Linked DNA regions of Homo sapiens. The protein of the gene in region 2 interacts with the protein of the main gene of each other region in a pairwise test. Each region holds a gene or a part of one and is shown on either strand. Other genes may lie near its edges.

Region 1 (6,452 bases), on a different chromosome or scaffold from region 2:
GTAACTGGGATTACAGGCACATTTTTGTATTTTTAGTAGAGACAGGGTTTCACTATGTTGGCCAGGCTGGTCCCGAACTCTTGGCCTCAGGTGATCCACCCACCTCGGCCTCCCAAAGTGCTAGGATTACAAGCACGAGCCACCACACCCAGCCTGAATACAGTATTTTTAAAAATCAAAATTAACAGAAATAATCCACAATGAATAAAATACAAACATTTTCAATGAAGACAGGATCTGTAACTGTGCCCTGTGGAGTCATATTGGAGCAAAAGGAAAATCAATGATACTGACCCTGCAGGCTACTTGCATTAGCTCACTGTCCTCCTAACTTCTGGGCTAAACAACCCAGCTAAAGCCCACTAGAGGGGGGCTGCTCCCCAACCTTTGCTAGCCCCCTCCTGCTGGCAACTGCTGATCCTGGGACCAGTGATGGGCAGGTCCACCTTTGCCCTCAAATGGTTCTGAACTAGGTCATTGCAGTCCTTTAAATAAATTAACCAAAACCATAATAATAACAACAGAAACATTTATTAAGAGCTAAGCGTTTTACAAATATTAATTCACTTAATACTCACATCAATCTTATAAAGTAAGTGCTCTTGTTATTTCCTTTTACAGGTGACCAAACTGAGGCATGGGGGTTTAATAAGCTTACCCAAAACTACACAGCAAGGAGGAGGCTGTGTCGGGAATCAAACTCAGTCACTGTGGCCCCCAAGTCCATGCTCATAACCACCAGGTAAAAAATGTGCCTCCTATTCTAATTTCTGTCTGACAGTGGGCCCAGTCATGGTTTCAATACAGCTCAGCAGAGCAATGCAGCAAATCCAGGTGGCAACACTAAAATACTCAGAAAAGACCAACCAAGCAACCAAAGCATAACATCAGCAATAGCACAACCAATGTGAATCATGAGAACCCTCTGTCTTTATTAAATTTGGGGGAAGAAATCAAGGTCACGAAATCAAGTGACTGGTGATGGGGCCTAGAAATGAGTGTCTCCCCCCACCCCCGGTTTCCGCTCTGGCAGGCGGGTGTTAGCGGATGGTGTACTTGTCCCACTTCTTCTCGGGGTCATAGGCCTCCCAGCGGCTGGCGGGGAAGATGTGCTTGTTCTTCTCGTACCAGCTGCGCAGCACCACCTTGCCCGCGTGCGACTCGTCCTTCTCCATGGTGGCGTCGCTGAGCAGGCGCACGTCATCGTGCACATCGAAGCTGAAGAGCGGCCCGCTCTTGCCCCTCGCCCTGGCGATGATGAAGTCGTAGAAGGTGTGGTAGTGCGGCAGGATGAGGTCCTCCTTGATGAACATGAGCTGCTCCACGCCGGCGGAGCGCAGCTCCAGGAAGTCCTTGCGCAGCCCCTGCAGCGCCTTCTTCAGGAACTGCTGCACCGTGTTGCCCTTGCGCACCCGCACCGTGCGCCGGTGGCCCGAGCCGTCCCAGTAGCTGAAGGTGACCTCCATCTCCTCGTCCTTCACTTTCTCGCGCTGCGCCTCCCACTCTTGGCGCAGCTCCTCTCGGAGCCGGTTCTCCTCCTCCTCGCGGTCGCGGTCTGGCAGGAAGCTGGTGTCCACGTCGGGGTTCTTGCCCAGGTTTCCGGCGCGCCTGGCCTCGGCCGCGTCGGCCTGGTCATCGAGGTCGTCTAGTGCAAAGGACAGGCAGGAGATCTTACGCTTGCGCTCGCGCCGCTGCTCCTGCTCCCGCTGCCGCTCCTGCTGCAGCCGCTGCTCCTCCAGGTGCTGGCGCTTGGCCAGCTGCCGCTCGCGCTCCCTGACCAGGGCCTCCTGCCGGGCCTTCATGTCGTTCAGGGTCACCAGGCCCACCGTGCTGGACTTCAGCTCGGCCTCCACGGCGTCGTAATGCGCCGAGAACCTCTTGTCCACCTGCGACTTGAGGATGGTCTCCTCGGCGATGCGCTGCTTCAGCACCTCCATCTGCTCCCGCTGCCTTTCGCGCTTCTTGAGGAGGTGCATGGCACGGCCTGCCTCGCGCATGGTGCCCTTGTACTGCGCCATGGCCCGCGCCTACCCGATGGGCTCTGCAGCAAAGAGGAAAAACGCGGCAGGTAGAGGGGGGCCCACGCAACGGCGGGGAATGCTCAGCTCTGCGCCTCCTCACAGGGCTTTCGGCAGTGATGGAAGCGTTCAGGGGCTGGGCCGACCTGCTAGGGTAACCACCAACCTGACAGTGTCACCAGGCACCAATTTCCAGCATTTTATTTGACCTCAATAAATGCAAATGCGAACGGCCCCACGTAACGGGTGGCTGCCATGCCTGAGCGCAGCGCTGAATTTGGGGAGCTGCATACAGAGAGGGTTGGGCTACTGAGCGGACCCTTACCTGCCCAAGCACCCTGTCGAGCGGAGACACGCGGGAGCTGACCTCCACGAGAACCACCCACGAGCAGAGGCCCACTCGCCCCGGGCTCTCGCGACAGCCGTGGACACAGGAAGTGGAGGCGGTGCGCCCCCTGGCGGGGAGGCGGGCCCTGAGGAGAGTGCCAGGCTCCTGGTAGGGCGGCTGCGGAAACAGGAAGTGGAGGTGGATCGCCCCCTGGCGGGGAGGCGGGCCCTGGGAAGAGCTCCGGGCTCCTGGTAGGGGCGGTGCTCCTGTGGGGCGGGCCAGCGCGGGGAGGATCCTGGAGGAGGCGCTTCTGGCCCTGCCCAGCCGTGGCTGGCCGGGGCTCCTGTTTTCACGCTGTGGGCAGGGCGGGCCCCCACCTGCTGTGCGTGCGTGCTGAGCCTTCTCGTGCCCAACTGTAAACACGCAGAAGCAATGTGGGCGCAGCGCAAGCTGCTGTGGCCACCCAGAGAGCCTTGCAACACGGCCCTGCTCTCCAACCCTCCTCCTCCCGCCTCTGATGCTACCCCGCTGTGGCGTCTCGTGAACATTACCTGCGCACCACTGCCTGTAATTCTTTCTTATGGCCCCAACACAACCATTCTTTGATAATAGAACCCTACTCGCCCCCCAGTTTCGTGACAAAACCTGCACTCAGCTTGTTTGACCTCTTCTATACAGCAGTTTCCCCCGGGTTCTAAGCTCTAATAACCATGGGACACTGAGTTAAAGTGTAGCAGTGTCTTTACTGTGAGCCTCTAACATGCCAGTTTCCACTGTAACTCTCCAAGAGCAGGGCAGACCAGTTCATGTTTCGTGACCGTTTCTCCCCTGCAGGAGATCTGGTAACACTCGCCGAAACCAGTGCTTCCTGGGACCTAGTTTGGAAAAGCTGGTTGTGAAATACATACTGCGGTTCAGCCTCCTCCCGCCTAAGAGCAACAATGCCTGTGAGCATAACCTTACCAAGAAGCGTGAATCATATGATAATTACATATGGCACCCACATATCCAGAGGAGAACAGCACGGTGTGAGCCCTCATCAAATTGTCCAAGCCAGAAACCTAGGCCTTTTCCTGGAATGACGTTCCTCCACAGGTAATCAATTACAGAAGAGCCTTTCACACTTTCCTTTTTCTCCCATTCCCCACCACTTGCCTTAATCTAGGAAATTAGCATTTTTTTTAATCTAAAGCCTTCTCATTGTTGCCCCATCACCAGAATACAAGAATATCTTATTTTATTGAGCTCTGGGATACTGTGTGTTTTGTTTTTGTTTTTACAAATTGAAGATTTGTGGCAACACAGCGTCAAGCGCCTACTGGCTCCATTTTTCCAGCAGCATGTGCTCACTTCGTGTTCCTGTGTCACATTTTGGTAATTCTTGCAATATTTCAGACTTTTTCATTGTGATATCTGCTATGGTGATCTGTGATCATCGTTCTGTGAGGTTATTGTAATTGTTTGGGGGCACTCCGAAGTGTGCAGTAGAAGACAAAGACGTTTATTGATTTAACTGATAAATGTTATGTATGTTCTGACTGCTCCACTGACTGGCTGTTCCTTCATCTCTCTTCCTGTCCCTAGGCTTCCCTAGTGCCTGAGACACAGCAATATTGAAATTAGGCCAATTAATAACCCTACAATGGCCTCTAAGTGTTCAAGTGAAAAGAAGTGTCACACGTCTCTCACTTTAAATCAAAGGCTAGAAATGATTCAGCTCAGTGAGGAAAGTATGTCAAAAGCCAGGATAGGCCAAAAGCTAGGCCTCTTTTGCCAAACAGTTAGCTAAGTTGTGAATGCAAAGGAAAAAAATCTTGAATGAAACTGAAAGCGCTTTCCTGGTAAACATATGAATGATAAGAAAGCAAAACAGCCTTATTGCTTATATGGAGAAAGTTCTAGTGGTCTGGATAGAAGATCAAACCAGCCACGACATTCCCTTAAACCAAAGCCTAATCCAGGGCAAGGCCCTAAGTCTCTTCAATTCTGTGAAGCTGAGAGAGGTGAGGAAGCTTCAGAAGAAAAGTCTGAAGGTAGCAGAGGTTGGTTCATGAGGCTGAGGAAGGAAGTCACCTCTATAACATAAAGTGCAAGGTGAAGCAGCAAGTGTGATGGAGAAGCTGCAGCAGGTTATCCAGAAGATCTAGCTAAGAGCACTGATGACGGAGGCTACCCTAAACAATACATTTTCAATGTAGACAAAATAGCCTTCTATTGGAAGAAGATGCCATTTAGGACTTTTATATCTAGAGAGGAGAAGTCAATGCCTGGCTTCATGGCTTCAAAGGACAGGTTGACTCTCTTGCTAGGGGCTAGTGTAGCTGGAGACTTTCAGTTGAAGCCAATGCTCACTTACCATTCTGAAAATCTTAGTGCCCTTAAAAATTATGCTAAATCTACTGTGCCTGTGCTCTGTAAATGGAACAACAAAACCTGGAGGACAGCACATCTGTTTACAGCATGGTTTACTGAATATTTTTAAGCCCAGTGTTGAGACTTACTGCTCTGATTATTCCTTTCAAGATATTATTACTCATTAACAATGCACTTGGTCACCTAAGAGCTTGATGGAGATGCTCAAGGAGATTAAAGTTGATTTCATGCTTGCTAACACAACATCCATTCTGCAACCCATAGATCAAGGAGTAATTTTGACTTTTAAGTCTTATTATTTAAGAAATACATTTCCAAAGGTTATAGCTGCTGTATGTAATGATTTCTCTGATGGATCTGGGCAAAGTAAATTGAAATTTTTCTGGAAGGCATTCACCACTGTAGGTGCCATGAAGGACATTCACAGTTTTTGGGAGGAGGTAAAATATCAACATTAACAGAAGTTTGGAAGAAGTTGATTCAAACAGCATTACATGTTACAAAGAAATCTTTCGTGAAAGGTAGAATCAATCAATGTGACAAACTCAATATTGATTTAAGAAACTGCCACAGGCCCAGCCTTTGGCAACCACCACCCTGATCAGTCAGCAACCATCAACACTGAGGCAAGACCCTCCACCAGCAAATAGAGCACAGCTCACTGAATGCTCAGAGGATCATTAGCATTATTTAGCAATTAAGTATTTTTAATGAAATTATGCACATTATTTTCTTAGACAAAATGCTACTGCACACTTACTAGACTATAGTATAGTATAAACATAACTTTTATATGCACTAGAAAATTTAAAAATTTGTGTGACTGTCTTTGTGGTGGTCTGGAACTGAACCCACAGTATCTCCGAGGTATGCCTGTATTCTTGTTCTTGTCTAACTTCTATACAATATCCTCAGAGATCTTCATAAAAAATGAATCTGATAACATTACTCTCCTACTTGAAAAACTCCAACTTCCCTTGTAACAGCCACATCAGAATCTCTTTGTTTGTCCTCTAAGGTCTCTAATAGGTGGACCCCTGCAGCATTCACCCAGCTTTTTCACTGCGCCTGAATAGAAGATGCCCTTTCAGGCCAGGCGCAGTGGCTCACACCTGTAATCCCAGCACTTTGGGAGGCCGAGGCGGGTGGATCACGAGGTCAAGAGATCGAGACCATCCTGGCCAACATGGTGAAACCCCGTCTCTAATAAAAATAAAAATAAAAAAAATTAGCTGGGTGTGGTGGTGCATGCCTTGTAGTCCCAGCTGCTCGGGAGGCTGAGGCAGAAGAATTGCTTCAACCCAGGAGATGGAGGTTGCAGTGAGCCAAGATCGCACCACTGCACTCCAGCCTGGTGACCCAGAAAGACTTCATCTAAAAAAAAAGTTGCCCTTTCATAACTGTTACCTCTGGACGTACTCTTTCTAGAAAGTCCTGCCCTTCGCTGTGCTATCCCTGAAGATCAGCACAAATGTCATCTCCAAGAGGAAGCCTGGAGCACCCACCATCACCATCACCACCCACAGATGGACAAAATTACCAATAGTCTCCTCTCTCAGGTTTCCCATATAATTACCTTTATTACACTTAACATAAATAAGATAGCCTCTCCACCTCTTTTTTTCAGTTAAATGATCCAACCAACTAAACTTTAATTCAATCGACTATCGTTTGGCCACAAATACTATATTCACTCTTTCTCTAATCGAATCAGAACTTGAATGTCAATATCA
Region 2 (7,023 bases):
GCTTTCTTATACATCTAGCTCTTTTAAATTTAATAACCAACACTCTGAAGTAGAGATATTACTGTTATTTTTTAAAATAATAGCCAAGGTACTATACATTTATTGTCCTATTATTAATCTTCGCAATGACCCAGTGAGACAGAGACTATTTTATTATTCCTGTCTTGCAGGTGATGAAAGAGGTTAAACAAATTTTCCAAGACGATGTGGCTAGTGAAACAGATCTGTGACTAGAAGCAAAGCCCTTCTCTCTCTCTCTTTTTTTTTTTTTGAGACGAAGTCTTGCTCTGTCGCCAGGCTGGAGTGCAGTGGCGCGATCTCGGCTCACTGCAACCTCCACCTCCCGGGTTCAGGTGATTCCCCTGCCTCAGCCTTCCGAGTATCTCGGACTACAGGCATGCACCACCACGCCTGGCTAATTTTTTGTATTTTAGTAGGGACGGGGTTTCACCATGTTGGCCAGGACGGTCTCAATCTCCTGACCTCGTGATCCACCCACCTTGGCCTCCCAAAGTGCTGGGATTACAGGCATGAGCCACCATGCCCGGCCAGCAAAGCCCTTCTCTTAACGAGTATGCTGTTTTGCCTCCCTTTACTCTTCAGGGCAACTGAAACTTCAGGAATATGTGACCTGGCCAAGGTTGAATAGCTATGAAGTAGAAATGCTTGAACTCGGGTCGGTAGAATTGTGTTATGGCTAACATCCCACCAAATAATCAGTTGTAAACAGAAAGTTTTAGAGAAATGCACAGTTTTAAAAAAATTAAACAGATTTTGGAAATATACAGGTGTTATAATTTAGATTTTGGAAATATACAGGTGTTATAACTTAGCTTGTTTACATCATTGGCCAGATGATAACGGGCCTCTTCATAGTTTTTCTTAGCTATATAGAGAAGTCCCAGATTCCGATGCAGTAAAGAGTGGGTGGCATTACTACAGTCAGTTGATTTGAGGACTGTCCACTGGGCTTGGAATAGATATTCTTCAGCCTGAACGATTCGGCCCAGACCTGCCCAAAAGCAGAAAAGAAGGTTATAATTCATATCCAGGCCAAAGAACACATGAGGAAATATGAGTCATTACCCATTCACTCATGTATTCATTGACTCAAGTATTTATTGACACAGAAAAACTCATACAGGAATGTTCACAGCAGCCTATTTGGAAGAGTAAAAAAAAAAAAAACAGAAACAATGTAAATGTCCATCAGCTGATGAGTGGATGAACAAAAGGAGGCATCTCCATCTCCATCTCCATCTCCATCTCCATGAGTGGAATATTACTCAGTCATAAGAAGGAATGAAGTAGTGCTACCTGCTATAATGTGGATGAACTTTGAAAACACTATACTAAGTGAAAGAAACCAGACACCAAAGGCCACATATTGTATGATTCCATTTATATGAAATGTCCAGAATAGGCAAATCCATAGAGACGGAAAGTAGACTAGTGGTGGCCAGGCGACAGGGGGAGTCCAATGCAAGGGAGGCACTAACAGGGGGTCCAATGCAAGGGAGGCACTAAGAGGGAGTAACTGCTGACAATTACAGGCTTTCTTTTAGGGGTGATGAAAATGTTGTGGAAATAGATCATGGTGATTGTTGCACAACCTTCAGAATGTGCTAAAACCAACCACTGGATTGTCCTTTTTTTGTTGTTGTTGTTGTTTTTTTGAGGGAGTCTCACTTTGTTGCCCAGACTGGAGTGTAGTGGCGCGATCTCGGCTCACTACAACCTCTGCCTTCAGGTTCAAGTGATTCTCATGCCTCAGCCTTCCAAGTAGCTGGGACTGCAAGCATGCACCACCACGCCCCACTAATTTTGTATTTTTAGTAGAGACAGGGTTTCACCATGTTTGCCAGGCTGGTCTCAAACCCCTGACATCAGGTGATCCACCCACCTCGACCTCCCAAAGTGCTGGGAATACAGGCGTGAGACACTGTGTCTGGCCTTAATTGTTCTTTAAAAGGGTAAATTTTATGATATGTGAATTATATCTCAATTGTGAAATATATATATGCATATTTAATACCCTTTCTGTGCCAGGCCTTGTGTTGGGTGATGGGGAATCAAAGTGCAACATGAAAACAAATATATTTACAATATAGTATAATTGCAATAGCAACACAAGCTTTGGAAGTGTCAGAGGATAGGAAATGTTTAATTCTATAGATGAGATGGAGAGGGACACTGAAGCAGAGTCTGAGCTGGGTTTTGAGGATGAATAGAAGTTTTCCAGGTAGATAAGGCAGGGAGAGCATCCCAGGCAGAAGTAACAGCATGTGCAATGTCATAGAAATATGAAATAATATGTTATGTTCATAGAACTATATAGAGTCACAGCTGCAGGGAACTGGTTCCAGAACCCCCATCAGATACCTAAATATAAGGATGCTCAAGGCTCTAATATAAAGTAGTGTAGTATTTGCATATAACCTATGCACATCATTCCCTATGCTTTAAATCATCTCTAAATTACTTATAATACCTAATACAAAGTAAATGCTATGTAAATAGTTGTTCTACTATATCATTTTTGTCTTTTTTGTTTACATTTTTTCTTTTTTTGTTTATAAGCCCACAAGTAACATCATGTATTGTTTTGTTTTGTTTTGTTTTTTTGAGACGGAGTCTTGCTCTGTCGCCCAGGCTGGAGTGCAGTGGCGGGATCTCGGCTCACTGCAAGCTCCGCCTCCCAGGTTCACGCCATTCTCCTGCCTCAGCCTCCCAAGTAGCTGGGACTACAGGCGCCCGCCACTACGCCCGGCTAATTTTTTGTATTTTTAGTAGAGACGGGGTTTCACCGTTTTAGCCGGGATGGTCTCGATCTCCTGACCTTGTGATCCGCCCGCCTCGGCCTCCCAAAGTGCTGGGATTACAGGCGTGAGCCACCGCACCCGGCCGTATTGTTTTTATTTGTATCATTTTTAATCATTGTATTATTTTTAAAAATATTTTTGACCCATGGTTGCTTGAATGGGCAGATGCAGAACCTACAAATATGGAGGGTGTAGGGACTGTATCGGCCTGTGATGCTGGAGCACAAATTGTGAAAGACAGAATGGCAGAAAATGAGGCTATGGTGGTAGGCAGGGGGCAGGTCATGGAGGGCTTAGTGAGTTATACCAAGGAACTTGATGCATGTGGATAAAAACTAGAGGATTTTCAAAAAGGGCGAGAGAATCAGATTTAAATTTAGAAAGATCCTCTGGAACCAATGTGGAGGAGGGACCAGAGGGGAGGAATAAAGGTAGAAGATTCACTGGAAGATGTCTGAAATAGTTCGGACAAGCACGCTTAAGAGCCTGAAACAAGACAGTGAACTAAAGAGGAGGAGATCAAAAAGAGACAGGAAGTAAAATGGACAACACACGGTTACTAAGTAATGTGGAAGGTAAGAGAAAGGAAAGCCACATTTATTGCTAATATTTAGATACTCTTGACACTTAAAGCTTTTTGTGTATTACATATCATCTTTATATATACAGAGGCCTGCCTACCTGCTTGACTCCTGGGGAAATTTGTCAGAACAGAATAGAAAGCCACTACGTCAGTGTGCTGCAGGGTAGGAGGCGTGCTCTGGGGGCGAAGCATTGGTGTGATAGGTGCTGCAGCAGAAATGGCATCAACAAAGGGTTAAGAGGTAAGGACACGAACCCCTCATAAGCCAACCCTCTGCTCCTCTGTGTCCTTCCTGTCAGACCTAGTTCATATGTAAGCATGCTTTTATTCTAGTTGTAACCCTACATCACTGAATTAAAGGAAAAGAGATGAAGAGGAAGCAGTCTACAAGAAGAAGGAAGTAACTTTGCCTGATGGAAGGTCAAAGTGCAAACTAAAATGGGAAACTACTAGATTAGGAGCACGAGGCCTAGTCCCTGATCCTGGCTCATGTGAACATGGCAAGTCACATCTTCCCTCCAGGCTTTGTCTATAAAATATGAGGTTTAGGCTGAAGTCCTCTCACATTTGAAGAAGCAAATGACTCTTAACTAAGATTGTTTAGATGGGAAAAAAATGGGACAGGGCATTGACAAATATTGGAAATTTAAAATTTTCAACATCCAGTTCTCACTCAAGGAGGCAATGCCAAAGAATGAAGACTCCAAGGCCCAGCTGAACCAGCATCTAAACAAGCATCAGTCCTAAAGGAAAAGGCATACTTGGGAGAATAAACTGTGAGGCTAGAGAGAGAGAGTACGGTGAGAAGAATGGGCTACTACTAGCCCATGAGATTACAGTCAGAACTAAGCTTGTGACCAGTGAGTGCGTAAGTTCAGGCCTGCCTCTTATGGACAGTGCCTACCTGGAGAGGCATAGGGTGAAGTGGAGGTGGTGGAGACATAAAGGAAGTGATACTATCCCTTAGGGTGATTTTACTAGTGTATGGAATTGGGAAAGGACAGCCACTTACAGACCAGTGGTACTTGTCTGAAGGGTGAGGCAACAGGCTTACACTGGGTTAACGGCAGATCTGGGAGATATTATGGGAGAAGATTTTGCAGGACTTGGTGATGAAAGTGAAGGAATGCAGCATACAGCAGTCACAGCTGAGTCAAAGGTTGTGGCTGTGAGGTGCCCAGGGGAAGAAAAGGGAATCTGTATTTATTGAAGACCTGTTATTTGCCCAACATTGTGCTAGTCCCTTTGCATCGGTGGTCTAAGTCTGCTAACAACCCTGTGAAATAATCATCAGATGAGGAATTTGAAGAGGAGGCAACTTCATTCATTCATTCAACCAAACATATATTCACCTAATTGATTGAGTCTCTATCACAATGCATGATGCTCAATGCACACTAAGACATGATCCCTGACTCCAAGAAGCTTAAAATCAAGTGAAGTAGGCATACAATAAATAGACAAAACATGAGTGCTGTGAAGGAAATGAACAGAACACAGTAACCAAAATCCTAGCTCACTGCAGCCTCCACCTGCTGGGCTCAAGCAATCCTCCCACCTCAGTCTCCCAAGTAGCTGGGACTACTATAAGTGCATGCCACCATGACCGCCTAATTTTTTTGTTTTAAGAGATGAGGTCTTGCTAGGTTGCCCAGGCTGATCTTGAATTCCTGGGCTCAAGAGATCCTCCCATTTCGACTTCCCGAAGTGCTGAAATTACAGGTGGGAGTCACCATGCCTGGCCAGTTTAAGCAGACACCTGAAGGATGATCAAAAGCCAGCCACGTATGAGAGAGAAAAGAGCATCCCAGGCAGAAGGAACCATATATGTGAGAGCTCTGAGTGAGGAAGAGCTTGGTGCCTACGATCACCCAGACAGTAAAGAAAGAGATGATATTTGAACTCAGGCTCTCCTGCTTCCAAATCACTCCAGTCTGAAGTAATCTCTAAGATGGGAAAGAAACATGTGCACAGGAAAGTGATTTCTTTAGACTTCCAGAAACGTTAGCAAGGTTTTAAACCAATGACTGTGAAGTTACAGTGAAATCTTCCATTTAGACAGTACTTTCCAGACTTCAAAGCACTTTCATGGTCATTACACTCGAACTCATTTCACCCTTAAAAGAATCCTGTGAAGACAACTCAGATTCAACACATACTTACACAGTGCTCACGAGGTTTCAGGTACTGTGAAATTATCTTTTTAGTACCTTCTCTGTGCTAAGTACTGGGCTGAGTGTGAAGACATCCGTGATAATTAAGAATAGACACAGATCCAGTTCTCCCCTGAGCTTACAGTCTACTGGAGCAGGGAGACAATTAAATAATCTCATCAATGAATACAATTATTAATGGACTAAGTGCTCAGAAGAAAGGAGTAGTTCTTTTTTTTTTTTTTTTTTTTGAGACGGAGTCTCGCTCTGTCACCCAGGCTGGAGTGCAGTAGTGGTGCGATCTCCTCTCACTGTAAGCTCCGCCCCCCGGGTTCATGCCATTCTCCTGCTCCAGCCTCCAGAGTAGTTGGGACTACAGGCACCCGCCACCACGCCCGGCTAATTTTTTTGTATTTTTAGTAGAGACAGGGTTTCACCGTGTTCGCCAGGATGGTCTCGATCTCCTGACCTCGTGATCCGCCCACCTCAGCCTGCCAAAGTGCTGGGATTACAGGTGTGAGCCACCGTGCCCGGCCAGAAAGGGTAGTTCTTTAAACAAGTATATTAAAAATGAGACCCAGCTGGGTGCGGTGGCTCACACCTGTAATCCCAGCACTTTGGAAGACTGAGGTGGGTGGATCATTTGAAGCCAGGAGTTCAAGACCAGCCTGGGCAACATACTGAAACCCTATCTCTACTAAAACTACAAAAAATAGCTGGGCGTGGTGGTGCGTGCCTGTAGTCCTAGCTACTCGGGAGGCTGAGGTGGGAGAATCACTTGTCCCTGGGAGGCAGAGGTTGCAGTGAGCCAAGATCAGGCCATTGCACTCCAGCCTGTACAACAGATCGGGACTCCGTCTAAAAAAAAAAAAAAAAAAGGGGAGACCCAACCTGGTCTGGAGCCCTGGGAAAGCTTCTAGACAAGGCAGTAGTAACCCTTGAGCTGAAACCTGAAAGATGATAAGGAGTTAATTTGGTGAAGGGAAGAGGAGGAGAAGCAGAGAGAGTGGCTACAGAAAAGCCTTTCCAAACAAGGAAATCATCATGCTTCTGAGGAACTGAGAGAAGGCCGGTCGGTGTAACTGGAAGGGAGGGAGAAAATAATTCAAGAGAGACAAGGTGATAGAATTGAGGTGAGAGAATTTGTTAACGGCTAGATCAAGCAGAGCCTCATGGGTTGCTTTAGAAATTTGATCTTTATTTAGAGGAGTGATGGGTCACATTTTTGTATGCAAACCACATTGGAGGGAGGCCAGAGATGATGTGGGGAGACCAGTTAGTAGGCAGTGGTCTAGATGAGAGATGATGAGACTTGGGCTAGGGTGACTTTTCCAGAATCCCATAGCTAGCCAGTGTCAGAGGTAAACAGAACCTGGGCTGTATTTTCTTGTCCAGTGCTTTTCTCATTACTTTGGAGGAAAGACAGTCTGGAATGGGGTGTCAGACCTGGGCAGGGTGAGCAGGG
Region 3 (8,011 bases), on a different chromosome or scaffold from region 2:
GCCCATGCGATCTTGGCTCACTGCCACTCTCCCTCCTGGGTTCAAGCGATTCTCCTCCCTCAGCCTCCTGAGTAGCTGGGATTACAGGCATGCACCACCAGCCGTGGCTAATTTTTCTATTTTTAGTAGAGACAGGGTTTCACCACGTTGGCCAGGCTGGTCTTGAACTCCTGGCTTCAAGTGATCTGCCCACCTCAGACTCCCAAAGTGCTGGGAGTAGCATGAGCCACCCCTTTTTAATAGAAATGGGGTCTCGCCATGTTGCCCAGGCTGGTCATGAACTCCTGGGCTCAGGCTATCCTCCCATCTCTGCCTCCCAAAGTGCTAGGATTACAGATGCCACCACTCCCAGCCTACATAAAGCATTTATAAAACAAAACAAAACTGAAATAATTTTCTTAAATCACTGCCTCAAGACTAATAAAACTGGCAACTCTCAATGATTTCCCTCAAATTACTCTCCTTTTTGAGAAGCAGTATAGAATGATAAAAAGCTGGAGATCTGAAGCCAACATCCTAGGTTCAAATCGGCTCTTTCACATACTGGCTATGTGACTATGGACAAGTTATTCCTACGTGTTTCAGGTTTCTTCTGTAAAATGACACTAGTAGCAGTATAATACCTGCCTCCCAGGACTGTTGTGAAGAATAAATGTAAATCACTCATAAACAATGTCTGTAACATGCATACTGAATACTTAAAAGATGCAAGTGATTTGGTCATCTGACCCTCACAAAAACAAGTATTTCAAACTGCTGCTTACTTTGAGGATTCCACGTGTTATATCAAAAGATATATCATTTCAGTAACTAGACCTTTGGAGGCAGTGAGATAAATGAGACTAATTGATCTGAAGGATCTGATCTGCTACTTTTACATCACAAAGGTACCTGCTTTATCTTTTAAGTAACAGCTTGCTATGGAATACTCAGCCTTCCTTTCGGGTTCAGTCAGATGTAGTGGAAAGATGAGGTTGCTAGGAAACTTTCAGATTTCTAGTAGACAAATAGAGAAAAACTTGTCAATACTATTGCCATTTCCATTCTTTGGCATGACTGGGCAAAGAGTACCCAGTGCTAAAACATTTGTCATTTGTGAGAAGCGCTATGCCTCTGTGGTTAGTAACGATGGCGTTAGAATGCCTGGTTATAACCCTGGCTCTGCTACTCGCTGTGACCTTTGGCAAGTTACTTGACTTCTCTGCCTCAGTTTCCTTATCTGTGAAATCTGGATAATAATACCCATCTTATAGGGTTGTTGGGAGGATTACATTAGTTAATTTCCATAAAGCTCTTAGAATAGGGCCCAACAGAATAAGCATCAAAAAGTGTTGATTATTAAAAGCATAAAATGTTTTCCAGTATTAATGACATAACTGTATAAAAATATATCTTGATCTCATGCAGAAAAGAAATGCTACTGTGTCCATGTTTTAGTTATTTGTATTAGTACCAGATGTGAGGTAGTACAAATGCAAAGGAGAAGGTACAGGAACACATCTTCATGTAATTAACCTACTGCCTGATGACCTGACCTTGGGCCAGAAAAGAAAATCAGAAAGATTATGACTTGATAGCATCTTTTAGAGGGGTCTCATGCATCTGATAAGGACTGGACTAAATTACCTGCTATAGGCTGGCCATGGTGGCTCATGCCTGTTATCCTAGTACTTTGGGAGGCTGAGGTGTATCACTTGAGGTCAGGAGTTCGGGACCAGCCTGGACAACATGGTGAAACCCCGTCTCTACTAAAAATACAAAAATTAGCCAGGCATGGTGGTGGGTGCCTGTAATCCCAGCTACTCGGGAGTCTGAGGCAGGAGAATAGCATGAACCTGGGAGGTGGAGGTTGCAGTGAGCTGAGATCGCACTTCTGCACACCAGTCTGGGCTACAGAGCAAGACTCCATCTCAAAATAAATAACATAAATAAATACAGCTAGGCATGGTGGCTCATGCCTGTAATCCCAGGCCTTTGGGAGGCTGACGCAAGTGGATTACCTTAGTTAGGTGAGGAGTTTGAGACCAGCCTGGCCAACATGCTGCAACCCTGTCTCTACTAAAATAACAAAAATCAGCCAGGCATGGTGGTGGTCACCTGTAATCCCAGCTACTCAGGAGGCTGAGGCAAGAGAATCGCTTAAACCCGAGAGGTGGAGGTTGCAGTGAGCCGAAGGTTCCAGTGAGCCAAGACTGCACCACTGCACTCCATCCTGGGTGACAAAGCAAGGCTCCGTCTCAAAAATAATAATAATAATTTAAATAAATAATAAATAACCTGCTAGATTTTCATTGAACACATTGTTTCCATCTTCTATTTGTAAGTTATTTCTAGCCTTTCAACATTTAACACTTAGTTTCTTCCCAGATAGTTTTCTAAATCAGTAGCATTGGAGCGTACGTTCTCAGGGCCTTCTGAGACTGTGTCACAAGTCATGGAAAAAAAAAATTTTTTTAATTAAAAATAGCTGGGCATGGTAGCTCACACCTGTAATCCTAGCACTTAGGGAGCCAGAGAGAGGAGGAAAGCTTGAGCCCAGGAGTTCGAGACCTGCCTGGGCAACATAGCGAGACCCCATTCTCCACAAAAAAGAAAAATATAAAAAATAAAACCATTAAAAGCATTAATAATAATTTAGCCATTACCAAGAGGAAGAACAAATTCTGCTTATCAAGACAGCCATTTCCTCAATAATTTTTTAGCAATGCCTCATAAGCTGACAGCAAGTCTAGACAGCTGGCTTAGCTGCAATAGAATGAATCGGTGTTTTAAGTGTGAAGAATTTTAAAGCAAGCCAAGTAATTGTATAAAATTTAAATTTTATGATCATGTCTGGACCTTTTTACACTTAACACAATGGAAATGTTCATATTCATTTTTTTCCCCAAAGGAAAAATTTCTGAATCATCACTATGTTGCACAGTAGAATAGAAATATGAATTCAGGTACTTAGTCAAGTTTCTAAAGAATGCAAATAACAGACATGATTTAACTTCCAAAATCTGAAGTCATCAACATGATTTTGTAGTACTCTATCTCAGGTTTTACCTAAAAATTCGTTATTATTCAGATAAAGATAGCTCCCTAATCACATGTTTTTAAAAAGCCTCTGCCCCACGACAACTTCCTGAGATCTGTGAAGAAACTGCAGTCTTGTGATCAGACTCCATATAGGACTGGCAGTTTTGTAATCGTAGGGAAAAAACGGTGACTGATTTTACGTGTCAATCAGTTGTAGTCTGCTGATCTGATTAGAAGCCTTGACAAATGCCTGGTGGCGATTGCAAATAACTGCCAAGCATATAGGGATGATACAGTAGCCCACTGTTTTGGGATCAGCTCTTGTACAAGAGTATAGGAACAAAAACATCTGTAAGTAAGGTACCAGAAAAATAACTGTCCACACCCAAAAAGGCAAGGAGAGTAATTGAGCTTTCAAGGAGTGTGTCCATGTGGTTCCTTCAAGGGGCTCCTCAGGGTGCTGTTGAATGTGTTCCAAGGCCAGCCTGTTGTAAGTCTCACTGATTTCAAAAACATAGTAAAATGCTGCTGCACTGGCTAACAGATACAATCCCACTCCAATCCATCCCATCCGCTGACGGAAGTTCATCATTCTCCATGCTCTGTGCCTTCAAATTAAAAAAGAAAATACAATTAGGGTCTAGTAATGCTGTCACGGCAACTACTCCAAATGTACTTGCTTTATCTCCAAGAATTCTAGGCCGGGCGCGGTGGCTCGCGCCTGTAATCCCAGCACTTTGGGAGGCTGAGGCGGGTGGATCACGAGGTCAGGTGATAGAGACCATCCTGGCTAACATGGTGAAATCCCGTCTCTACTAAAAATACAAAAAAAATAGCCGGGCGTGGTGGCGGGCACCTGTAGTCCCAGCTACTCGGGAGGCTGAGGCAGGAGAATGGCGTGAACCCAGGAGGCAGAGCTTGCAGAGAGCCGAGATCACGCCACTGCACTCCAGCCTGGGCGACAGAGCGAGACTCTGTCTAATTAAAAAAAAAAAAAAAGAATTCTAAAATATCCCACTAACACACTTAAGATTTAAAATAATTAAATTAAACACCTATTAAGAAATGTAAAACTTACAGGTTGTTTTGTGTAATACTTACAATCAAGTAAAACAACACACACAAAAAAACAAAAAACCATTGATTTCAGTATATACTGAGTTCTGCTTTTTAACGGGAATCCCTCAGAATAAATCACTGCATCCTACTTAAACAGGTCCATAATACCCGCCCTCCAGAAACTGGAATTAAACTAGTTTCTCACAGCACATTTCACTTTGACAGGTGAAACACTTTCTGGCATAACAGTACTGCTTCAGACGTGAACGCGGGGTGCTACAAGTCAAGCCCCCAAGTTAAGACAGTAACTCCTAAGCACTTACAATGGTCCCGAAAATCTTCCTGTTCCCACGGCAAGCGTTAAAGAGTCACTCAGCTCTGAATAATCGGGTGGCTTTGGCATTTCAGAGAAAGCCAACATAAAATAAATCCCCTGGGTCACCCGGCTAGGAGAAAGGTGAGCGCCGCCAGCCTGGAGCACCAGCTACTAGTGATTAAGAACGGCGTGACTGCGGCGGGTCACGCGCGGCCCGGCCCCCGTCGCCGCCGCCGGAGACCCGCTCTGAGAACCTGACCCGGCAGGGAGGCGTCCCCGCCACTTGGGCCTCCGGGCGGCCGGCCCCGCCCCCTGCCGCGCTGCAGCGCCGGCACGCCGCGACCAAGGCTGCGCAGGCGGCGCCAGGCCCGGGCCTCGCCGCCTTGCAGCGCCGCGAGCCCAGCGCCCGTCAGCGGTCGCCGGCGGAGCCTGCTTGCAAAGCTGAGGTCCCGGATCTCACCTTCCTGTCCCGTGGTGGCCAGCCCGCCCGCCGTCCCGGATGCCGCCGCAGTCGGAGCTTCCGGCTCGGGCCGGAAGCGCGCGCGCCCCGCCCCCGAGGCCCGCCCCTCATGACGTCAGATCGCCCCCGCCCGCCGCGCAGCTTCCCCGAGCGAGACCAAAACAGGTGGAATCCGGGCTGGAGCCGGAGCTCCGGCGGCGCGGGTGGCGGCACGTCCCTCCAGGTGGGTGGCTCTCTGGGTCTGGCGACTCAGCGCTCCTCAGCCTTGCCCCCTGGTGCCCGCTCGCGACTGTCATCGCCCCATCACTTCTCGTTGCAGACAGTACCACAGGCACCTGGAGTACCGGCATCGGTCGCTGTGGCCCCCGAGTGTCCGTCAGAGCCTAGGGGAGCCTGCCCTCCCGCGCCTCGTCGGGGCCCGGCCAGGCACCTTGGCCGCCGGCGCACGGACGCGGGCACGAGCACTAGATCACGGTGAGTGGAAGCGGGCCCGACGCGGCCCTGCAGGCCCGACATCCGCCAGGCACCAGGGCTGGGAGGGGTGAGGGGCGCGCGCCGCAGTGCGGCTGCCCTGGCGTCGCCGCTGGGGGCAGGGCGCGCGGGGCTTGGGGCCTGCACGCTTGCCCTGGACGTTGGCACCTTTAGCTAACCTGTCTGCTCTGTCTTGCAGGCTGCTGGACCTCGGCACGTTGACAAGATTTCTCTGGGGTACCGCGGAGGATTACTTTGAATTTCGGTGGTCGCCTGTGGTCTGGCATATTTAGAACTTAAGTCTATTATTTCGGGCACCATGACTTTGAGGCTTTTAGAAGACTGGTGCAGGGGGATGGACATGAACCCTCGGAAAGCGCTATTGATTGCCGGCATCTCCCAGAGCTGCAGTGTGGCAGAAATCGAGGAGGCTCTGCAGGCTGGTTTAGCTCCCTTGGGGGAGTACAGACTGCTTGGAAGGATGTTCAGGAGGGATGAGAACAGGAAAGTAGCCTTAGTAGGGCTTACTGCGGAGACTAGTCACGCCCTGGTCCCTAAGGAGATACCGGGAAAAGGGGGTATCTGGAGAGTGATCTTTAAGCCCCCTGACCCAGATAATACATTTTTAAGCAGATTAAATGAATTTTTAGCGGGAGAGGGCATGACAGTGGGTGAGTTGAGCAGAGCTCTTGGACATGAAAATGGCTCCTTAGACCCAGAGCAGGGCATGATCCCGGAAATGTGGGCCCCTATGTTGGCACAGGCATTAGAGGCTCTTCAGCCTGCCCTGCAATGCTTGAAGTATAAAAAGCTGAGAGTGTTCTCGGGCAGGGAGTCTCCAGAACCAGGAGAAGAAGAATTTGGACGCTGGATGTTTCATACTACTCAGATGATAAAGGCGTGGCAGGTGCCAGATGTAGAGAAGAGAAGGCGATTGCTAGAGAGCCTTCGAGGCCCAGCACTTGATGTTATTCGTGTCCTCAAGATAAACAATCCTTTAATTACTGTCGATGAATGTCTGCAGGCTCTTGAGGAGGTATTTGGGGTTACAGATAATCCTAGGGAGTTGCAGGTCAAATATCTAACCACTTACCAGAAGGATGAGGAAAAGTTGTCGGCTTATGTACTAAGGCTGGAGCCTTTGTTACAGAAGCTGGTACAGAGAGGAGCAATTGAGAGAGATGCTGTGAATCAGGCCCGCCTAGACCAAGTCATTGCTGGGGCAGTCCACAAAACAATTCGCAGAGAGCTTAATCTGCCAGAGGATGGCCCAGCCCCTGGTTTCTTGCAGTTATTGGTACTAATAAAGGATTATGAGGCAGCTGAGGAGGAGGAGGCCCTTCTCCAGGCAATATTGGAAGGTAATTTCACCTGAGTCTCAGGGAACCACGAAGGGATATGGCAATGAGTAGAGCATGAAGGTAGAACAGTCTATATACTCTTGTGACACATACAATCCCTACCTTGTGCTGCCAAGTAACTCATTTTTGTGCAATTCTCAGTATAAGCCCTTTGTCGTTTCTGTGCCTATTTAAAGTCTCCTAAAGGTGTAATTGACTAGGAAGGATGTAGTTCTACACTGCCATTTACCTATTTAAATTCATCCTTGTGAATATCTTTGTTGTTGTTGTTGAGACAGAGTCTCGCTCTGTCACCCAGGCTGGAGTGCAGTGGCGTGATCTTGGCTCACTGCATCCTCCGCCTTCCAGGTTTAAGCTATTCTCCTGCCTCAGTTGCCCGAGTAGCTGGGACTACAGGCATGTGCCACCACGCCCAGCTAAGTTTTGCATTATCAGTAGAGACGGGGTTTCACCATGTTGGCCAGGCTAGTTTCGAACTCCTGACCTCAAGTGATCCACCTGCTTCGGCCTCTGAAAGTGCTGGGATTACAGGCGTGAGACACTGCGCCCAGCCTCATCCCTGTGAATTTCTTATTGTACACAAGTTCTTTCACTATCTGTGTGCAGTGCTCTGAGGGGACAGACAAGGCTTGGGTGTATATGCCAACCAGATCTCATTGAAGTATCAGCTTGTTTGGTACTAGGTGCAAGTGTAGCATGTCACATGTGACCATGTTGGATCATTGACAATTTTTAGGTATGTACTGACCTACATTTATGATGAAGATCCTGAGCGGAGGTTAAGATATTAAGTTATTTTCCATATGAATCAGAATTATATTGATTCTGTGCAATCAAAACAAAAGGCAGAATAGAATGCTGAGATTGGTTAAGTTTGCAATGACCATCTTGAACCACAGATTTCTGCTATGTGTCATCAAAACATCTAGTTCTGAGTAACATTTTCACGATTGTTATAAAATTATAGGTGTGAACTTCTAAAATAAAGGAATGCTAATAAAATGACTTTGTCTGTTTTGTTTATATCACGGTTCCAAGAGAGATTTCATTTGAATAAAGAGTTCCCAAAGCATGAATCTGCAAACCACTGAACCTACACAGACTTAGTTCCTTGGACTCTTTCCTCTTGGTGCTCAGGGGTAGGAAATTGTTTTCTAAGTGAAGGGACCTTCTACCGAAGCAGTAAAACAATGGGATGAAACAAGACAGTGCACAAATTAGTGCGAGTAGTGCAGATGTATCAGTGTGTCAAATTTGGAAGGAGAAGGAAAGAAATGAACATTGCATGCTGCTGCTTGGAAGATTGGACTAAAAGTTTCTCCA
Region 4 (7,379 bases), on a different chromosome or scaffold from region 2:
CCAACGGCGTCCAGTGAGGAGGGGCCCAGGCCTGCGAGACGGGGCGCGTTCCTGTCCCCAGACCCCTCCGGCTGCGCCTCAACCCCCAGCCCGGCTCTCTGACCTGCATCGGTCGGGCCGGGCACAGAGGAGGCAAAGCAGGCGGAGGCCGCGAGAGGAGAGCAGCCTGACCTCCCGCCTGAGCCCGGACCCTTCCCCTCGGGCACCCTCGGACGCCCCCGCCCCAGCGTGTTACTTTCTAGATGGGGAAACTGAGGCGCGGCCAGGGCGATGCGGCGGAAGTCCCGCGCCCGGCCGTCTCCCGCGCCTGCCAGACAGAGCCCCGAGAAGAGGGCATAGAATTCCCTCCTCTAATTGTGTCCCAGAACTCTGGGACGACGGAGGCCAAGCTGCTGAGGGAGGGGACGAGGACGCGGGGCCCCAGGGACCAACCCCTCCGCTCCCCGGCCAGCCGCGGCCGCCCAGCCTCGGTGCCCCGGCGCAAACAAGCGCGGTGTTTGCCGAGCGCGAGGCGGGCGGCGCGGCCCGAGAGCGATGAGGATTCGATGGAGCCGCTCGCCGCGGCGGGGGCAACGGAGCCCGGGCGGGCGCGGGGATCGATCGGGCACAGCTGTCGCCTAAGAGCCCGCGGGAGCATCCACCCGCGGGCCAGAGCTGCCCGGGCGCCCCGCAACTGCGGGCAGGAAATCCGGGACGTCGGGCCCGCCAGGGGCGAAACCCCAAAGTCGCGACACCCGGGGTGGGGAGGTCAGGACGTCCCCACGGCCAACGTGGAACCTTCGGGAGCCGCGCGCTCAGCCTCGCCGGGACCCCCGCCAGGCCGTAAAAGCCCAGAGTCTCCCCCCAAATCTAAATAAAATCCCCAGACCCCGCCCGAACGAAGGCGGCTGGAGTCCAGAGGGAGAACTCCTGCCACACACTAGGCACCGGCGGCCGGGATTTGGGGCGCCCGCAGGTTTCGGGGGCCGGGAGTGGGAGCAGAGCGGATCTAGGGCTGCGGCTGGGCTTGGGTGGGGCGCGCATTCATTGCCATCGTTTAGTAAAACCTCGCTTTAATAAAAGCAGGGAGGGGTGCGCAGAGCCCGGACACTTTCATTTCGGTGGGAGACAAATCGAATCAGAAAGTCAGTTGGGGGCGCACTGTGCAGGGTTCTGGGGGAGCCCCAGGAAAGGAAAACTTGAGGTATCTGACTCTGCCTTTGATATTTTTAGCTGCAATGGGAGAGTCAATAACAACAGGGAAGGTGGTGTGTCCAAAAATGGGGGAGGTGTGGAGGATTAAAGAGGGGGTTCAAGCTTAGGGGGTCCGTTTAGGGAGTTTGAAGCCGTGGAGAGTGCGCACCCCTGGGGCATGGGTGGAGGCCCCCAGTCCTCCCCTCCACCCGCGGGACTCTCCAAGCCCTGAGGTTGGCAGGACCAGAGGCTGCCCTTTTTGACTCCTCCCAGACGCAGGCCAGGCACAGAGAGGGTGAGCGTTGGTCTGGGGCAGCCCAGCACCTGCTGAGGTCCCCCTCCCCAACTCCCAGACACAGACTCGGGCTCTGGGAGTCAAACTTTCATCTTCCTGGAGGGGATACTGAGGCCAGAGAGCTTCCTCGAGGTGGCTGAGGTCCCTGTGGGGTGGGGAAGGGGGACTTCTTGTCCCGATCCAGCCCACCCCTCCCCCTGCCCACAATTTGCCTAATGACCCAGGATCGATCTGGGCCTGGGCAGCCAGCCTACCCGGTGGCCGGCTCAATTCTATTTTACTAATTACTAAAAGGCTGCTGCTGGTGGGGAGAAGCAAGCTGGGGGCTCCAGGGGGCCACAGTCCCTCTCTTGGGGCCAGCAAAATTCTGTTCAATCTCTCAACGGGACCACAGCCTCTACAAGGAGTGAGATCCCCATCCCTGGGGGAGTCCAAGTGTCCATCAGCCGAAGGGAGGGGTGAGGGGCTTCGCAGACCTGGATAGGGTTAGGTCCACCAGGCTGGGCTGCCCCTTCCAAGTCTAGGGAGCTTTGGAAGGGGTCTGTGGCCACCTTAGCGTGTCCTGAGGCAGCAGAGGGGAGAGGCCCTCTTCCTCTCGGAGTCCCTGACCCTCGTCTTCTCTTTCAAAATGGATGCTTTCCCTGCTAGAAAAGCCACACACGCTTGCTATTAAAATGAACACGATCATCAAGCTGTAAAAAATATATTTAAAAGGAAGCCTGCAAAATCCCAGCTCCCTAGGAGCTCCCCCACATTGGCATTTGGGGGAACTTCCTTCCACCTTGTTATCCTCCCACCCGTAGAGACCCCCAGCCCCCACCTGGTCTGCGCTTCTTGAGCCTGGGATGCTAGCGTTTTATGGCGGCTGATTGATTTTTAGATCTCACGATTATTTTTAATTATCTGTGATTGTTGGAGGGTGAGAATGAGGAGCGCAGGCTGGGGCTCTGTGCAGCCACATCCCCCCCGCCGAGATTCAGCATCTGCACGGGGAGTGGGGTACGCGACTGTTCGGACCTGCCCCTCTCTTCCCACCTGGAAGATGGGTGTAATTATGTAAACTCCAGAAATTATACCTGAACCCTGGAACTGGAAAGTTTAGGGACCGACACTTCAGGGGGCAGGAGTTAGCACTTGGGCAGATGTAGGAATGAAGGGGGGAACTCTAGGGCCACCACCCCCCCACCTTGGGCCAGAGACACCCGGAAAAATTGTGATTTGACTTCCCCCTCTCTGGGGCTGAGAGAGGAGAGTATGCCTGGTAAATAACAGGCACTTACTAAATGCCGAGCCCTAAGCAGCGAGTACTAACAGGGGTCCCCTTCAGCCCTATCCCTCCCCAGGACTTGGATCAGGCCACCTCAGGCTGGGGGCCCAGATCATTCAGGCCCCCTCTCTCTCTGGCTGTTGTGGTCAGCATAGACTCACCTCCGGCTCCCAGCTGGGCAGGCTGGAGGGCACCCCCTCCCACACCAGAGAAGGGGAAACTGAGGCACAGAAAGGGCCCTATTCCAGAGCCAACCTAGTCTTGGTTCAGAAAATCGCATCTCCAATGTGTAGCCACGTCTACAGGGGCCAGGAAATCTGGATGCAGGTGCAAAGCTGGGGCCGGGGTTTGCCCAGAAGGTTTGCACCAAAGGGGAAGTGACAGCCTGACTGTGTCCTCCCCTCTTCCTTCAGCTTTGAGCCCTGATGCAACCCTCTGAGATGGGGGTAACTGGGGGCTCCCGCGAACCGACTGCCTGACCCATCCCCTTCCTCTTCTAGAAAGTGCACAAGCGTTACCCCGGGGGTGGGGGGGGCAGAGGCAACGGGGAAGCAGGAAGGGGCTGAGGCTGGTTTTGGACTCTGCACCGTAGCCTCTGGCCTACAAGACAGAGCATCCTCTAGATTCTGGTCTGGCCCCTCCAGATCCGCAGCCCTGACCTTACCCCACTGGCGGGATCTAGTCCCCTGGGGGTCTCTCTGATTATAGGAGCCCTTCCCCCATCTATCCCAGTTCCCAGGGGCCCCTGGGGCTCACCTGTCTCCAGGTGCTGAGAAAAAGGAGACCCCTGCCTCCCCCCACATTGAAGAGAAGCCCCAGGGACAAAGAGGAGTTTGCACCAGCGACGTCTCAGAAGACAGGGGATCCAGCCTCAGCCTCCGTGGGCTGGAGGGTGACAGGGGCTCTTAGTGGTCACCCCCAGGCTCCAGTGCCTCCAGCGGCCGCACTGTAAAAAGGCCCTGCAATTAGAAGGGGCCTTTGGCAACCCCGAGGCCGGGCAGCCCATTGTACAGTTGGGGAAACGGAGGCCCAGGTGCCCACACATGGGCAGAGGCTGACCCCTGGGGCGCACGGAGGCCCTGACCTAGCCTTAGGACCTCCCTTTTCCCCCACTTCCTCCACAAAGAGGTTGTGGGAAGGGGGCTGTGACTCCGTAGGTGTGAGTGGGAGTCGGGGGAAGCTGAGCTTGCAGTGGGGATCTAGCTCCTGGGGGTCTGTAGGGAACGGGGGGGGGGGGGGACACGTACATTACAGGCGACCGTCCAGCCACACTCCCAGAAACTCCCTGGAGATGGACTTGGGGGTGCCAGGCAGAAAGCCACATCTGGGACTCTGGAGAGAATCACACAGAGACGCGAAATCGGAGACTCTGGGTCGAGGCCCCCAGCCCCACCTGGGCAGAGTCTGTCCTCGGACCCCCGCCCGCTGTCCCCCGGGTACGGCCTGCCCCAGCGGGCGCGGGCGGGCGCAGTGGCCAGGGACGCCGAAGCCCCAAGTCTGGCCGACTTCGGCCTGCTTGGTGCTCGAGTGGGGCCGGGGCGGGCGGAGAGCGAGGCTGCGGGAGGCAGCGGTGGCAGGAGCGGGTGGGCGGGGGCGCTGACGTCAGACCCGGGCCCGGGCGCCGGCGGCCGCTCCCCTGCCACATCCTGGTGGCCGCGCTCGCAGCCGGGCCGGGCCGTGCGCCGCGCAGCCTGGCAGCCTCGCGCGCAGCCACCGGGGAGCGGGCGGGAGTCATGCAGCGGCCTTGAGCACTAGGGGCCGGCGCTGAGGAGCGCGCGCGGCGGGAGGGCAGCCGAGCATGGAGCTGAGCCTGGAGAGCCTGGGGGGCCTGCACAGCGTGGCCCACGCGCAGGCGGGCGAGCTGCTGAGCCCGGGCCACGCGCGCTCGGCGGCGGCGCAGCACCGCGGCCTGGTGGCGCCCGGGCGCCCGGGCCTGGTGGCCGGCATGGCGAGCCTGCTGGACGGCGGCGGCGGCGGCGGCGGTGGGGGCGCCGGGGGCGCGGGCGGCGCGGGCAGCGCGGGCGGCGGCGCGGACTTCCGCGGGGAACTGGCGGGCCCGCTGCACCCGGCAATGGGCATGGCCTGCGAGGCGCCGGGCCTGGGCGGCACCTACACGACGCTCACGCCCCTGCAGCACCTGCCGCCGCTCGCGGCCGTGGCCGACAAGTTCCACCAGCACGCGGCGGCCGCGGCCGTGGCCGGGGCGCACGGCGGCCATCCCCACGCGCACCCGCACCCGGCGGCCGCGCCGCCCCCGCCACCCCCGCCGCAGCGTCTGGCGGCCAGCGTGAGCGGCAGCTTCACCCTCATGCGCGACGAGCGGGCGGCGCTCGCCTCCGTGGGCCACCTCTACGGACCCTACGGCAAGGAGCTGCCCGCCATGGGGTCGCCGCTGTCGCCGCTGCCCAACGCGCTGCCGCCCGCGCTGCACGGCGCCCCGCAGCCCCCGCCGCCGCCACCACCCCCGCCGCTGGCCGCCTACGGCCCGCCAGGCCACCTGGCTGGGGACAAGCTGCTGCCGCCCGCCGCCTTCGAGCCGCACGCCGCGCTGCTGGGACGCGCGGAGGACGCACTGGCCCGCGGGCTGCCCGGAGGCGGCGGCGGCACAGGCAGCGGCGGAGCGGGCAGCGGGAGCGCCGCGGGGCTGCTGGCGCCGCTGGGCGGGCTGGCGGCGGCCGGGGCGCACGGGCCGCACGGGGGAGGCGGCGGCCCCGGCGGGAGCGGCGGCGGCCCCAGCGCGGGCGCAGCGGCCGAGGAGATCAACACCAAGGAGGTGGCGCAGCGCATCACGGCGGAGCTGAAGCGCTACAGCATCCCGCAGGCAATCTTCGCGCAGCGGATCCTGTGTCGCTCTCAGGGCACGCTCTCCGACCTGCTGCGCAACCCCAAGCCGTGGAGCAAGCTCAAATCCGGCCGCGAGACCTTCCGCAGGATGTGGAAGTGGCTGCAGGAGCCAGAGTTCCAGCGCATGTCGGCGCTGCGCTTGGCAGGTAGGAGCGTGGCGCGCAGGGCCAGACCCTGGGGGCGCCGGCTCTGGACTCCCGAGCACCTAGCGGGGCGGCGGCCGATGCCCGGGGCCAGCGCCCCAAGCCCCGCCCGTGCGCCCCGGCAGCCCGGGACCCCCTATCAGGAAGCTAGACCGCGATCCGCGCCGCTGCCCGTTTGTACCGTTGCCAAAAGGGAGAAAGGGATTGTGCCGCCTCCCCGCCCCCCGGTCGCCGCTTCTGCCCCTTTCGGGAGCGCGTAGGGGTTCTCTAGTCCTTGTTAGACTGCTGGGAGGCTCCGAGCCTCTCCCCAAGCAGCCCTCAGGGAAGCTCATTGTGTGTGTGCGTGTGTGTGTGTGAGCGCGCGCCTGTTGGGGGGAGCTGTGTCCCCGAACGAGCTGCTGTTGTCGGCTAAGGTGCCACTCCCCTCCTCCAGAGTGGGTGGAGAGGGGCTGTTGAGCCCCCAGCCCCGGGCCACAGAGCTCCGAGACGTTGCGGCGGGCGCCTGCAGCTCAGCAGCAGAGGCCGAGCCCGCGCTCATCCCCCCACCTGCCCCAGCGCGCGCTTCTTTGTAGTTCGGCCCCGCGATCGATACCCCCTCCCTCTCCCCTCCGGCCGCTGGCAAAGGTCACCCGAGAATGGCGGGGGAGGGGCGGCCCCGGGGACCCTCGGCCCGCGCCGCCCGGAGGCCTTCACACCCCGACCCGGCGCCCGCCCCGCGCAGTTTGGTCGTGGCTCGGGTGCGCGCGCCCCTGCCCGCCTGGCTTTGGGGTTTTGTGTCTCTCATGTCCACTTCTCTCCTCTCTCGGTCGGAACACACTGGTATCTCTATGTTTTTCTCTTGCTCTCCGTTTTGCTCTTGTTCCTGCTCATTATCTCTTCTCCCTGTCGGTCTCTCCGCCTCTGTCTCTGTCTCATACTCAGCCACCGGCCCCCTGGGGACCCTCCTCCCTCCTCCCTCCCAGCTGACAACAGCTAAGTCCACACCTGCCCTCTGACAGGCAGCCCGGCCAGGCCCCCATTTCCTAGGTGGGGGTGTAAGGGTGCAGGAGGGCCCCTGGCCTAGGTGGGGGTTTCTTTCCCTGGTGGTGCTGGGGAGGGGGCTGTCCACCCGGGCCACAGGGACAATAGCCGCGGCGGCTGGCGCCTGATCGATCGCTTCTCCGAGCACAAGGGCGAGAAAGGCGGGGGCTCTGGGAGGCGCCCCACTAGCAAAGAGGCAGAGGGGCTTGCGGCTGTGCCCCCAGGCAGCCCGTCCAGGCAGGGGGGCTGGGCGAAGAGAGGACAGCGGGGTGTCCTGTGCTGTTCCTCCCTAGAAAGCCATTCCCTCCCTCCACCCCAGGAGGACCAGACAACCCCCTGGGAGCCTGGACCCACAGGCCGGCCTCAGTTTCCCCCTTCTGCAGAGCAAGCAAGGTGACTAGCTGGAACCTCTTATGGGATTCTTAGATTTTTCTGCTTTGGGGCACGGGAAAATAAATAGTCTTTCGCGTGTGGCAGGGTAACCTTGTGCTCAGGGAGGTCCGGGAACCTGGACGATTTCAGTCTGTCCTGCTCCCCTCCCCATGACACATACAGCGGCACTCGTGCGCTCACCATAGACCGGCGGTCATATCCGCACACAGCCACGGCCCTCGAGGTGCAGTGCGAGGCCTCAGGT

What was found.
Region 1: the proteins of ZMYND12 (region 2) and FAM50B interact in binary tests that used the Homo sapiens proteins (3 or more experiments, as listed by UniProt).
Region 3: the proteins of ZMYND12 (region 2) and MOAP1 interact in binary tests that used the Homo sapiens proteins (3 or more experiments, as listed by UniProt).
Region 4: the proteins of ZMYND12 (region 2) and ONECUT3 interact in binary tests that used the Homo sapiens proteins (3 or more experiments, as listed by UniProt).

What each region holds. Positions count from the first base shown.
Region 1 is NC_000006.12:3,845,378-3,851,829, reverse strand, and holds FAM50B (protein FAM50B), read right to left. Parts: upstream 2,458-6,452; 5' UTR 2,344-2,457; intron 2,042-2,343; 5' UTR 2,019-2,041; coding exon 1,041-2,018; 3' UTR 513-1,040; downstream 1-512.
Region 2 is NC_000001.11:42,439,014-42,446,036, forward strand, and holds part of ZMYND12 (zinc finger MYND domain-containing protein 12), read right to left. Parts: intron 1,013-7,023; coding exon 843-1,012; intron 1-842. UniProt on the Homo sapiens protein: Required for sperm flagellum function and male fertility.
Region 3 is NC_000014.9:93,181,878-93,189,888, reverse strand, and holds MOAP1 (modulator of apoptosis 1), read left to right. Parts: upstream 1-4,991; 5' UTR 4,992-5,079; intron 5,080-5,175; 5' UTR 5,176-5,330; intron 5,331-5,526; 5' UTR 5,527-5,646; coding exon 5,647-6,702; 3' UTR 6,703-7,690; downstream 7,691-8,011. Other genes in the region: LYSET (lysosomal enzyme trafficking factor), read right to left, coding at 3,218-3,629, 4,404-4,483.
Region 4 is NC_000019.10:1,749,130-1,756,508, forward strand, and holds the start of ONECUT3 (one cut domain family member 3), read left to right. Parts: upstream 1-4,376; 5' UTR 4,377-4,533; coding exon 4,534-5,725; intron 5,726-7,379. UniProt on the Homo sapiens protein: Transcriptional activator. Binds the consensus DNA sequence 5'-DHWATTGAYTWWD-3' on a variety of gene promoters such as those of HNF3B and TTR.